Linked DNA regions of Homo sapiens: regions 1 and 2 are each linked to region 3. The links come from fine-mapping of genetic effects on gene expression. A gene starts in region 3. Each other region holds a variant in brackets. All regions are shown on one strand. Distances are from middle to middle. Region 1 overlaps PLA2G6 (phospholipase A2 group VI). Region 2 has its middle 9.5 kb from the start of PLA2G6. Region 3 holds the start of BAIAP2L2 (BAR/IMD domain containing adaptor protein 2 like 2).

Evidence for each region. PIP is the estimated chance that this variant, and not a neighbour inherited with it, causes the effect. A credible set is the group of variants that fine-mapping cannot tell apart.
Region 1: its variant is the best candidate, but not a certain one, in a credible set for the expression of BAIAP2L2 in whole blood (INTERVAL, PIP 0.51).
Region 2: its variant is the best candidate, but not a certain one, in a credible set for the expression of BAIAP2L2 in subcutaneous fat (GTEx, PIP 0.50).

What each region holds. Positions count from the first base shown.
Region 1 is chr22:38,150,945-38,155,211 of GRCh38, forward strand. The region is part of intron 2 of PLA2G6 (phospholipase A2 group VI); the gene reads right to left. Among named protein-coding and RNA genes, the nearest start is that of PLA2G6, 29 kb to the right of the region's middle. The variant T/C (reference allele first, on the strand shown) is at 2,422.
Region 2 is chr22:38,189,210-38,193,476 of GRCh38, forward strand. No RefSeq gene overlaps it. Among named protein-coding and RNA genes, the nearest start is that of PLA2G6, 9.5 kb to the left of the region's middle. The variant G/A (reference allele first, on the strand shown) is at 2,522.
Region 3 is chr22:38,108,617-38,112,616 of GRCh38, forward strand. BAIAP2L2 (BAR/IMD domain containing adaptor protein 2 like 2) reads right to left here and starts at 2,068. Exons shown (of 14, transcript NM_025045.6): 1 at 1,859-2,068; 2 at 517-592. The coding sequence starts at 1,909. PLA2G6 (phospholipase A2 group VI) reads right to left here. Exons shown (of 17, transcript NM_003560.4): 16 at 3,888-3,961; 17 at 2,879-3,689. The coding sequence ends at 3,545.

The DNA of each region.
Region 1 (4,267 bases), 42 kb after region 3:
GGTGTAGTGGTGCATGCCTGTAGCCCCAGCTACTCAGGAGGTTGAGGGAGGAGAATCGCTTGAACCTGGGAGGCGGAGATCGTGCCACTGTACTCTAGCCTGGGCCACAGAGCAAGACTCTGTCTCTAAATAAATAAATGCCAATGAGAATTCTGTACTTAGCACACAAAACAAAATGAAAACAAAAACAAAACCTTCAAGAATAAGGTTAAAATTAAAACATTTCTCTAGTCAAACAAAAAACCCAGAGACTTTGTCATTAGCAGACCTACACGAAAGGAAATACAAAAGCTTTTTCTTTCCTTCTTTTTTTTTTTTGGAGACATGGTCTCACTCCTGTCACCCACGCTGGAGTGCAGTGGTGCAATCAACGCTCACTGCAGCCTCAACCTCCCAGGTTTAAGTAATCCTCCCACCTCAGCCTCCCGAGTAGCAGGGACGTGAACCACCACACCTGGCTAATTTTTTGTATTTTCAGTAGAGACAGGGTTTTGCCACGTAGCCCAGGCTGGTCTGGAAATCCTGGGCTCAAGCGATCCTCCCGCCTAGGCTTCCCAAAGTGCTGGGATTACAGGTGTGAGCCATCGTGCTGGGCCAAAAGCTTTCTCTTCATGTGGAATGAACACGATCCTAGATGGATGCTTAAAGAGGCATGAAAGAATGAAGCACCATGGCAAGTTAAATATGTGGGGGGATCTAAATAAGTATTGATGGTATAGCGTCTTGTTGGGTTTAAAATAAAAACTAAATAAAACAACAGCACACAGCATCGAAGCCTGGAAGGGAATACATAGCTAAAGGATTCTAAGACCAACTTATTGTTCTGGAAGATACTAATGGACCTTGAGTAAGGCAGAGATAAATCTCGTAATCTCTAAGGTTCTGTCAAGATGTGCAAAAGGTTTCAGACTTTGCCCCGCTTGTTGTTGTCAAAGTTTTGCTCCAGAAGAAGACACAATCTTGATTATGCTGAAAAGTAAGCAAACTTACCCTGTGCTCTACAAGGAGACCCTAACTCTATTTTCCAAGGCTGTTTGCTGTATAAACATCCTTTGAAGGTAGCCTGGAACAAAGGTAGTGCTATAATTTGGATTTCTGCCCCCCAAACCTCATGTTAAATTTTGATTCCAATGTTGGAGGTGGGGGGCTAATGGGAGGTGTTTGGGTCATAGGGGTGGATCCCTCATGAATGAATGCCCTCCCTGTGGGGTGGGGGTGAGTGAGTTTTCACTCTATTAGTTCCTGTAAGAACTGGTTGTTAAAAAGAGCCTGGCACTTTTTTTTTCTTTGAGACAGAGTTTCGCTCTTGTCGCCCAGGTGATCTTGGCTCACTGCAACCTCCACCTCCTGGATTCAAGAAATTCTCCTGCCTCAGCCTCCCGAGTAGCTAGGATTACAGGCATGCACCACCATGCCCAGCTAATTTTTTTGTATTTTTTTTAGTAGAGACAGGGTTTCTCCATGTTGGTCAGGCTGGTCTCAAAACTCCCGACCTCAGGTGATCCACTCGCCTTGGCCACCCAAAGTGCTGGGATTACAGGCACGAGCCACTGTGCCTGGCCCGTGCCTGGCACTTTTTAACAACCAGTTAACAACTTATTTTCTCTTCCTCACTTCCTTTCTTGCCATGTGACACTGGTAAGATGCTGGCACCATGTTTCTTGTATGGCCTGAGGAGCCATGAGACAAATAAAACCTCTTTTCTATGTATAATACTCAGACTTAGGTATTCCTTTATAGCAACACTAAACAGACAAAAACAGGTAGTCAATGTCTCTGCTAGCAGGATGTATGGAAATATGAGAGAGACTCTTGGAGAACGATCTCCCAACAGTTACTACTAAAAAGTGTATAACTTCCAAGCTAAGAGACAGAAAAAACAGAATCATATGAAAACGCTCAATCACAAATTGCAAAAGCATTATGCTAAGTGAAAAAGTCAGACTCATAAGACTACACGCTATATGATTAAAAGCAGCAGTGATGGAATGCACATAGGTATAGGAAGACGTCCTCCTGCGGGGAAAAAAAAAAAGGAAGCACATAGGTGTTGCCCAGGGATGGGGTGGGTGCCATGGACTATAAAGGAGGGTGAAGGAAATTTGGAGAATAACAGAAATGTCTTATATCTTGATTGTGGTGGTGGTTACATGGGGGTGTTCTGTTATCAAATGAAGGTGGAGGCAAAGCAAGATGGCCAAATAGGGCTGGGCGCGGTGGCTCATGCCTGTAATCCCAGCACTTTGGGAGGCCGAGGTGCGTGGATCACCTGAAGTCAGGAGTTTGAGACCAGCCTGGCCAACACGGAGAATCCCCGTCCCTACTAAAAATACAAAAATTAGCCAGGCATGTGGCCGCCGCCCCGTCTGGCAAGTGAGGAGCGCCTCTGCCCGGCCCCCGCCCTGTCTGGGAAGTGAGGAG[T/C]GCCTCTCCTGGCCGCCGTGCAACCTTCCAAGTGTGAAGCGACAGCCTTGTGTGTGATCTTTCTGCCTTCCCCAAGTTTGCATTTTCGACATTAAAGTTTACTTTTTAATTGAAAAAAAAAGTAGCCAAGCATGGTGGCAGGCACCTGTAATCCCAGCTACTGGGGAGGCTGAGGCTGGAGAATCGCTTGAACCCAGGAGGCAGAGGTTGCAGTGAGCCGAGATCGCGCCACTGCACTCCAGCCTGGGTGAAAGAGCAAAACTCCGTCTCAAAAAAAAAAAAAAAAGATGCCCAAATAGAAACCTCCACCAATTGTCCTCCCTGGAGGAAAACCAAATTGAACTATACACACAAAAAAGTACCTTCATAAAAAGCAAAAATCAGCCTAGGTACCAGCTCAGCTACAGTGTGGCAGAGCACCAAGAGGGCTCTTGGGGTCCCAGATTCTAAGTGTTGGCTGTGGGGTGGCAGTTCTGGACCTGCCCTGGGTCAGAGGGGAGCCCACTACCCTAAAGGGAGAGTCCCAGGCCTGGCAGTGTTCAGTTGCTTCAAGAGCCCTTAGGCCCTGAATGAACGTTGGCAGTGGCCTGGCAGCACTGCCACAGGGCTGGGGCAGTGGTGGCCATGGAGAGAGACTTCTCTGCTTGTGGAAAGGGGAGGGAAGAGCAGGAAGGACTTTGCCTTATGGCTTGGGTATCAGCCAGGCTGTAATAGAATAGAGCACTGGGGAGATTACTAAGGTTTCTGACTGCAGGCCCTGCCTCCCAGATGGCATCTAAGGACCTTCCCAGGATGGGGGTAGGGGGAACTTGCTGCCTTGAAGGGAAGGACATAATCTCACTGGCTTCACCACCTGCTGACTGTAGAGCCCTAGTGCCTTAAGCAAACGTAGGCAGTAGCCAGGCAGTGGAGACTGTAGGCCTTGGGTGAGACCCAGTGCTGTGCTGGCTTCAGGTCTGAGCCAGCATAGTCCTAGTGATAGTGGCCACAGAGGTGCCTGTGTCACCCCTCTCCTAGCTCCAGGCGGCCCAGCACAGAGAGAGAGACTCCACTTTTAGGGGAGAAAGTAAGGGAAGAGAACAAGAGCCTCTGCCTGGTAATCCAGAGAATTCTTCCAGATCTTATCCAAGACCACCCAAGTGGTACCTTTACGAGTCTGCAAGAGCCATAGTATTAGTAGGCTTGGGGTGCCCCCTAATGCAGATATGGCTGCAGTGACCAAAAACTTAGATCACAATACCCAAGTCCCTTTTATTACCTGGAAAGTCTTCCTAAGAAGAACAGATACAAACAAGCCCAGACTGCAAAGACTACAATAAATACCTAACTTCAATGCCCAGACACTGACGAACATCACAAGCATCAAGACCATACAGGAAAACATGACCTCACCAAATGAACTAATTAAGGTACCAGTGGCCAATTCTGGAGAGACAGAGATATGTGACCTTTCAGACAGAGAATTCAAAATAGCTGTTTTGAGGGAACTCAGTGAAATTCAAGCTAACACAGAGAAGGAATTCAGAATCCTAACAGATAAACTTAGCAAAGAGATTGAAATAATTTAAAAGAATCAAGCAGGCTGGGCACAGTGGCTCACGCCTGTAATCCCAGCACTTCGGAAGGCCAAGGCAGGCGGATCACAAGGTCAGGAGATCGAGACTATCCTGGCTAACATGGTGAAATCCCATCTCTACTAAAAATACAAAAAATTAGCCAGGCGTGGTGGCGGGCGCCTGTAATCCCAGCTACTCGGGAGGCTGAGGCAGAAGAATGGTGTGAACCCGGGAGGCAGAGCTTGCAGTGAGCGGAAATCGCGCCACTGCACTCCAGCCTGGGCGACAGA
Region 2 (4,267 bases), 81 kb after region 3:
GAGGGATGGAGAGGGATGGTGGGGGATGGTTAGGGATGGTGAGGGATGGTGAAGGATGGCGAAGGACATGAGGATTTGGAGAGGCTGAGCAGGGGTATTTCAGGCAAAGATGCAGGGTGTGTGCCAAGCCTCTCACGATGGGGGAATCTAATGTGGAGTTCTTGAGGGTCAGAGTGTGCAAGCTCTTAATCCCTTTGTCCCTTCTCTTGTGCTTCTCGTCCTCATTTATGTTTTGTCAGCCATTAATTATGAAATACCTGCTATGTGCATGACCTTACTCTTTTTCTTTTCTTTTCTTCTTTTTGACTCAAAGTCTCGCTTTGTTGCCAGGCTGGAGTGCAGTGGCGCGATCTCAGCTCATTGCAACCTCTGCCTCCTGGGTTCAAGAGATTCCCCTGCCTCAGCCTCCTGAGCAGCTGGGACTACAGGCGCGTGCCACCACACCCGGCTAATTTTTGTATTTTTAGTAGAGACGGGGTTTCACCATGTTGGCCAGGATGGTCTCAATCTCTTGACCTCATGATCCGCCCACCTCGGCCTTCAAAGTGTTGGGATTACTGGCATGAGCCACCATGCCTGGCCGGCCTTACTCTTAGTATGGTGGGGACACTAAAGACATCTCTATTCTTGTCCTTGGGGCTCACAATTTAATACAAACTTGTCTCAGATATACAGATAATAGTTTATTGTGAAAAAGCACTGGAATATAAAGGCAAATATATTTTTCCATATCATCGCATGTTCTATGGTCTGAATGTGTGTATCACCCCAAAATACTTTTTATTTATTTTTTATTGTTTTGAGATAGAGTCTTGCTCCATCGCCGAGGCCGGAGTACAGTGGCATGATCTCGGCTCTCTGCAACCTCCACTTCCCGGGTTCGAGCGATTCTCCTGCCTCTGCCTCCCCGAGTAGCTGGAATTACAGGCGCCCACCACCAAGCCCAGCTAATTTTTGTATTTTTAGTAGAGATGGGGTTTCATCATGTTGGCCAGGCTGGTCTTGAACTCCTGACCTCAAGCTATCTGCTTACCTCAGCCTCTCAAAGTGCTGGGATTACAGGGGTGAGCCACTGTGCCCAGCCCCTACCTTTTTTTTTTTTTTTTTTGAGACAGAGTCTTGCTTTGTCACCCAGGCTGGAGTGCAGTGGCTCAAACGTGGCTCACTGCACCCTCCATTTCCTGGGCCCAAGCAATCCTCCCACCTCAGCCTCCCAAGTAGCTGGAACCACAGGAGAGCACCACCACACCTGGTTAATTTAAAAAAATTTTTTTTGTAGAGATGGGGCTTGCTATGTTGCCCCAGCTGGTCTTGAACTCCTGGGCTCAAGCAATCCTCCTGCCTTGGCCTCCCAAAGTCCTGGTATTACAGGTGTGAGCCACCACACCCAGCCCTGATAATCCTCTTTTATGTCCCAGGGGCTCCTGAAATTCTACTGCAAATCACACATTCATGAGTAGGCTGAATCACTGTGCCCCCAGGATGCAATGGTAATGAAACGGAATTGCAGGGATCTCCAGAGAATCAATCCGTGTTTGGCTGCCCTGCCATAGCGTTACACAGGGCATGAGGGCAATCAGTGATATAAACACAGTCCCCACTGTCAGGGAGCCAAAGGACATTGTAGGACCGAGGTCCCCAACCTTTTTGGCACCAGGGACTGGTTTTGTGGAAGACAGTTTTTCCACGGAGCCGGGGGATGGTTTGGGAATGATCCAAGTCCATTACATTGATTGTGCATTTTACTTCTATTATTATTACATTGTAATACATAATGAAATAATTATACAACTCATCACAATGTAGAATCAGTGGGAGCCCTGAGCTGGTTTTCCTGCAACTAGATGGTCCCATCTGGGGGTGATGGGAGACAGTGACAGATCATCAGGCAGACAGATCATCATATTCTCATAAGGAATGCAAAACCTAGATCCTTCGCATGCGAAGTCACAATAGGGTTTGAGCTCCTATGAGAATCCAATGCCGCCGCTGATCTGAGAGAAAGTGGAGCTCAGGTGGCAATGTGAGTGAGCAATGGGCAGCGGCTGTAAATATGCTGTAAATATCGATGAAGCTTCACTCGCTCACCCGCCCGCCGCTCACCTCCTGCCGTGCAGCCGAGTTCCTAACAGGCCATCGACCCAGACCAGGGGTTAGGGACCCCTGTTCTTAGAAACTAATGATACTCTCTTCCTTCCTCCCTGTCTCGCCACAGCCTGACCCTCTTGCTTGAGCCTAGGACAAGGCCCAGTGGAACAAGGACAACTCCTCCATTCATCCCATTAACATTCATCATGCTCCCAGCGTAGGCACGGTGGCCTAGGCAGGGCATGGTGGCTCACGCCTGTAATCCCAGTACTTTGGGAAGCTGAGGCAGGCAAATCATTGAGGCCAGGAGTTCGAGGCCAGCCTAGCCAACAGAGTGAAACCCCATCTCTACTAAAATAAAAAATACAAAAAAAAAAATTAACCAGGCGTGGCGATGCACGCCTGTCATCCCAGCTACTTGGGCGGCTGAGGC[G/A]TGAGAATCGCGTGAACTCAGGAGGCAGAGGTTGCAGTGAGCCGAGATCACGACACTGCACTCCAGCCTGGGTGACAGTGCAGGACTGTGTCTCAGAAAAAAAGAAAAGAAGAAAGAAAAACATTGATCATGCTTCTGCTATGTGCCATGGCCCGGGCAAAGCTCTGGAGACACAAAAATGAAAGGATGTAATCCTGGTCCTCAAAAAGCATGTGGGTTAAGAGAAGACAGCCATGAAGACACAGAACACCGAGTCAGAGAGGAAAGTGCTATCATGAGGGATACACTGGTAGGTTTCCTACCTTGTACACAGGAACCTGAGTCAGCCTGGGGATGATCTGGGAAGCCTGCTGAACAAAGTGGCATCTGAGCTGGGGACTGAAGCACAAGCCGGGGAGGGAGTTCCAGGAAGAAGGACTGGGAAGATTGAAAGCACGAGGCAGTAGAAGAGAATGATGGGTATGAGGACAGAGTTCACGGTGGCTGCAGCTGAGAGGAGGTGGTGGAAGCAGGCAGAGGCCAGATCGAGGAGGCTTATGGAAAGAGTTTACACTTTGTCCTGACAGCACTGGGGAGCCATGGAAGGGTTGTGAGCAGAGCAGTAGCCTGGCCAAGTTTAGGTTTTAGAAAGCTCTCTCTATCCTCTGCATGGAGGCTAGAGGCAGGGGGACCAGGCAGAAGGCTGCTGCAATTGTCCTGGAGCCAGGTGCTGTGGCTTGAACAGAGGCCATGGCTGAGGGAAGAGAGAGGCTGGAGAGAAGTTAAGGAGATGAGATCACTGAAGCCTGGTGACTTGTTTGCTGTGGGAGGGAGGGAGAGGGTGAGGTGAGCATGATGGCCTGGTTTCTCTCCAGGGTGACTGGGGAGGAGGTGGCATCATCAACCTGTTGGAGAAATTAGGTGGGGAGGGTGGCGCTAAGCTCCACTGAGACAACGTGGAGTTAGACGTGCCAGGGAAGGGCAGGGGAAAATACATGTCATCCATGCAGTTGCTTAAGCAGATCTGGTCCATGAGAGACAGCTGGGAGCCCAAAATAGAGATCTGGGAGTCCTCAACATCAGGTGGCACCTGAAATCTTGAGGTAGGGATAAGGTTCCCCAGCAATAAGAAAAGAGGGCAAAGGCTAAAGCTCTGAGCCTCGCTAAGAATTAAGAGGCCAAGATGGAGGGCCAGGGATGAAAGCTGAAAAGATAGGAGGGAAATCTGAGCTTTAGAAGGCAAGGGGAGGTAGGCATGTGGCTGCATGCCTGTAACCCCAGCTATTCGGGAGGCTGAGACGGGAGGATGGCTGGAGCCCAGGAGTTCAAGGTTACAGTGAGCTATGATGGCACTACTGCACTCCAGCCTGGGCAAGGGAGGGAGACCCTGTCTCAAAACAAAGACAAAAACACCAAGGAGAAAACAGTGTTTCCAAAAAGAGGGGAAGAATAGGCCGGGCACAGTAGCTCATGCCTGTAATCCCAGCACTTTGGGAGGCCGAGGTGGGTGGATCACCTGAGGTCAGGAGTTCGAGACCAGCCTGGCCAACATGGTGAAACCCTGTCTCTACTAGAAATACAAAAATGCCGGGTGCAGTGGCTCACGCCTGTAATCCCAACACTTTGGGAGGCTGAGGCGGGTGGATCGTGAGGTCAGGAGATCGAGACCATCCTGGCTAACACGGTGAAACCCCGTCTCTACTAAAAATACAAAAAATTAGCCGGGCGTGGTGGCGGGGGCCTGTAGTCCCAGCTACTTGGGAGGCT
Region 3 (4,000 bases):
GCTATTGGCAGGTATGAGCGGCCACAGCGGACGGGTACAAGGGTTTGCACGGGGACCGAGTGAATGTCAAGGCCAGCTGCAGGGTGTGTGGGTGGTGGCCAGTTGAAGTGAGGAAGCCAGCTGCTGTGTGAGCCTGGGTGCAGAGGTGGGACTGAGTATAGGGGTGGGTTCAGCTGGTGGCATCCAGGTGACGCCTAGAAATGTATGCACTGTCAGGGGCTGCCCTGGGGCTGTGTGGGCCTGCAGGGCCTGGTACTGCATCATGGGAGTGTCTGGAGGCACCTGAAGGAGGGGGCAATGAGGGGTGCTGGGTGTGGACTGGGGTGCGTGGGCACAGGAGAGTGGGGGTGCATAAGGCCTCTCTGGCTGCAGAGGTGTGAGGGTGAGGGTGGTGGGTAGGAGGGTGTAGGGTTGAGGATGAACAGGTGTGGGATGCAGAGAATCTGGGAGGGGCCTGGGTGGGTGGGAACAGCAGAGGCCCAGGGCTGGGGCTCGGTGGCCCGGGCAGGCACTCACCGTGGAAGGCACGCAGGTAGTTGTTGCCCAGGTACACCAGGTTCTCCAGGGCGGGGTTAAACTGCTCCATGATGCTCTGGACCCCAGGGTCAGGGGAGGAAAAAGGTGTAGAGATGGGGGAGCGAGAAGGAACCACGGATGGAGTCAAGTCACCAGGCGTCAGGGACAGGGCACCCCCAGCCCAGTGAGAAGCCCCAGACTTTGGGGGGCCCATCTACAAACCTAGGCTCACCCAGAATCCTGGCTCTTGGCTGCAGGGACCTCAGAGCCCATCTTTTGGGGTCCTGTTCTAAGCTGTGGTCCCCTCACAGCCAGCTCCCGCTTACGTCTGCTCTGGCGGGACCGAGGTGCCTCCCGAGATGGTGCACCTGGAAGGTTCTCCTCCTCCCGCTGGGCAGAAGCTGGCCCGCCTGCTGTGGTCCCCACTGGGCACGGCTCAGCCCTGCCCTGTGTCCAGGCCTTGCCGGGCTACACGCCTGGGGCTGCCAACAGTCACCCCCGGGGCAAGGGCAGCTCTCGCCCTCCTCCGAGAACAGCCCCCCATGGGCAAGGCTGTGGCTGGATTAGTGTGGGCCTCCTCGGGCTGGGGCCGGGCAGAGAGCTCCCCGGATGGTGAAGACGGGCCTGGACTTGGGCCTGGACTTGGACTTGGGTCTCGGTTCAAATCCCAGCAGCACCTCTTCCTCCCTCCGTGACCTTGAATGAGCTGTTTAACCTCTTTGGTCTCAGTTTTCTCATCTATCAAGCAGGGTGGTCATTTTCCACCTCACAGGTGGGTGGTGTGAGGCCTCCAGGTGAAAGGGTCCTGCACACAGGAGGCGCTCAATAAATGTCTGTGGCGGCTGCAACAACCCCCCGGGGGTGAAGTAGGAAGTCTGAGGGGCTCAGAAATGAGAGAGACAGAGACAGGGAGAGACAGAGAGAGAGAGAGAGACAGAGAGAGAGAGAGACAGAGAGAGAGAGAGACAGAGAGAGGGAGAGAGAGAGGGAGAGAGAGAGAGAGAGAGAGAGAGAGAGGGAGAGACAGAGAGAGAGAGGGAGGGTCTTTCTTTATTCCCAGGCCGGGCAGCCAGGCCCTTCTCATCCAGACTCAACTCTCCCCACCCTGGGCCTTGGGCTCCCTCCTGCCTTGTCCAGCATCTGGGAGTTGGGGGTTCCCGCTGTATGGCTGAGTGCTCTCGGGGATCCTTACCCCCGTACCCACCCCTGGCCCAGCCTGGCTCCAGGCTTCCCTTTCCAGGACATCTGTAGCCCCGGCTGGCCCTCCGTCCTCCAGAGCGGGCCTGATTTCTGTGCCCTGGGAGGAGGGGCTCAGGCCTGGCTTGGCCACCCATGTGCTCACCTTGTAGATGGCCATGGTGGACCTGTAGAACTGGTCCATCTCGGGGGCCATGGAGGGGCTGTCCCGGGTCTGAGCAGGAGGCTGGGAGCTGGTGGCGATGGCACAGCCGGGAGCAGTGGTAGGTAGTCCCTCAGGTGCCCACGACTCAGCTGGCAGCGAGGAAGCCTCGGAGAGGGACCTGGAGATGGAGGCCTGCCTCAGAGGAGTGGCAGCTTAATTATTCACCAACTCGGGATGTCAGAATGTGATCTGGGGCGTAACCAGATCCGGCAGGGAAGGCATCCTGTGCCGGGCAGGCTCGTGTGACCTGCCCTTCAATTATTCACCCCTTGGAGCTGTGGGCTGATACAAGTGCCCATGTGGATGAGCCCCCTCCTGGGTCACCCCCTCCTCAAGGACCCCAACCCTGGGGGGCCCCGCCCTCCCACCTGCCTATACCAGGCATTGCCCACCTTACTGGGCGGGCGCTGCCCGATGCCCTCCCCCAGGACTCTCTCTGCCAGACCCAGCAGCAGCAGCCCCTGGAGGGGAACGCCGCTTTACTTCTCACTGTCCTCAGGCCTGCGGCTCACAGTGGGGCCACGCCCTCTGAGCTTGGCTCCCACAGCCGCTCTGGCCCGCCCAGCTCCTCCACTTGCCGGAGCAGGAGCAGCACAAACGCTGGAGTTGCCCAGCCCTGGGCAGACCTCGGCCCTGCACACGCGCTGCCTGTCCACGCGGAGTCCCCGGCCTCTCTGGGTGACAAATGGGGCTCTCCCTGGTCCTCCAAGATGAAGTTGAAGATTGTGGCCCTCCTTGGGCCTGCCGGGGGTATGTGGGCCTGGCAGCTGCCTCTGCATACCCTAAGGGCCGGTTTAGGGGAGGCCTAGAGGAAAGAGGAGGTGTCCCTGCCCAGGGATCCTGGAAAACAGAGTGTCCGGGTACAAAGGAAAAGTCCGGTCAAGGCCAAGGGTCAAGGCCGAGGGGAGCCGGGGGTCAGGGGAACAGGTGGATCTCACACCACTGCACACACAACACAGGTGAACTTGAATCCAAATGATTTATTTCAGTTTTGGCTCTTAAGCCACTTCCATTGGGAAGAAGAAACTCCCAGGAGTGACCTTTGAGAGCTGAGGGTTCTCGGGGTGGGGCAGTGTGAGGGGCTGGGCCAGTGTGAGGGGCAAAGTCCAACGGGCATCCCACTCCTGCGGCCTGGGCTTTCCCAGCTGATGGGGTGGGGGACACCCATTTCTTTAGTCCCAGCCCCCAGGGAACGGAGCAGAGGGCAGAGGGAGTGGGCTGCACCCACCAGGAAGCCTGGGAGTGCCCTTGCTGGGGGCTGGGGCAGAGGCAGCCCGGCAGGCCCTCAGGGAGGCTGGGGCTGGGGGCAGGGGTACGGTTGTGCCCGGGTACCCTTAATGTTTGAGCTGATGGGGGAGTCAGTTGTCCTTGACAGTCAGGGAAAGGGGCCAAAGGGGGCTCTAGACTTTCCCAGCCTGGAATGACAGAAAGTGCTGGAAGGCGGGGTTAGTGGGAGACAGGCCTTCAGGACCAGCCTCGGGCAGGCAGCTTGGCATTCTCCCAGGCCTGGTCTATGGACTCAGAGGTGCCTGGGCCCAGATCTGCCCGGGAGGGCAGTGGCTGGGCTTGGCCTGGCAGGGGCTGAATGGACGAGGTCAGCTGGGGCCGGTGAGAGGCTGGGGACCCTCAGGGTGAGAGCAGCAGCTGGATGAGCTTCTGGAACTCCTCGCGGTGCTCATAGATGTAGACCTCGGTCTCCCAGAGGGCGTTGACCAGCACTGTGTCACTGACCTCATCCAGCATGATGTCCGTCCCCAGCTGGGGGTTCAATCTGTTCGGGCCAGGGAGGAGGGGGTCACCCTAGGATGCTCAGGCTGGGCAGGGGACGCCAGCTAGGACCAGGGTGGGCTTGGGGAACAGAGCAGACCCTTGGGGAAGGGAAAGTCCACACTAGGGCTGGGAGGGGAAGGTCGGTGAGTCCGACCACGCCAGGGCACGGGGCCAAGGGCTGGGGCGGCTGAGCCCTCACCTGAAGTACTGGATGCCGACCATCTCGCACCAGGCCCGTGCCCGGTCCACAGCCCGCCCGTCTGGATCCGTGCACTGGTGAGAAGCAGCCTTGGTGAGTGCCGGGCCCACACC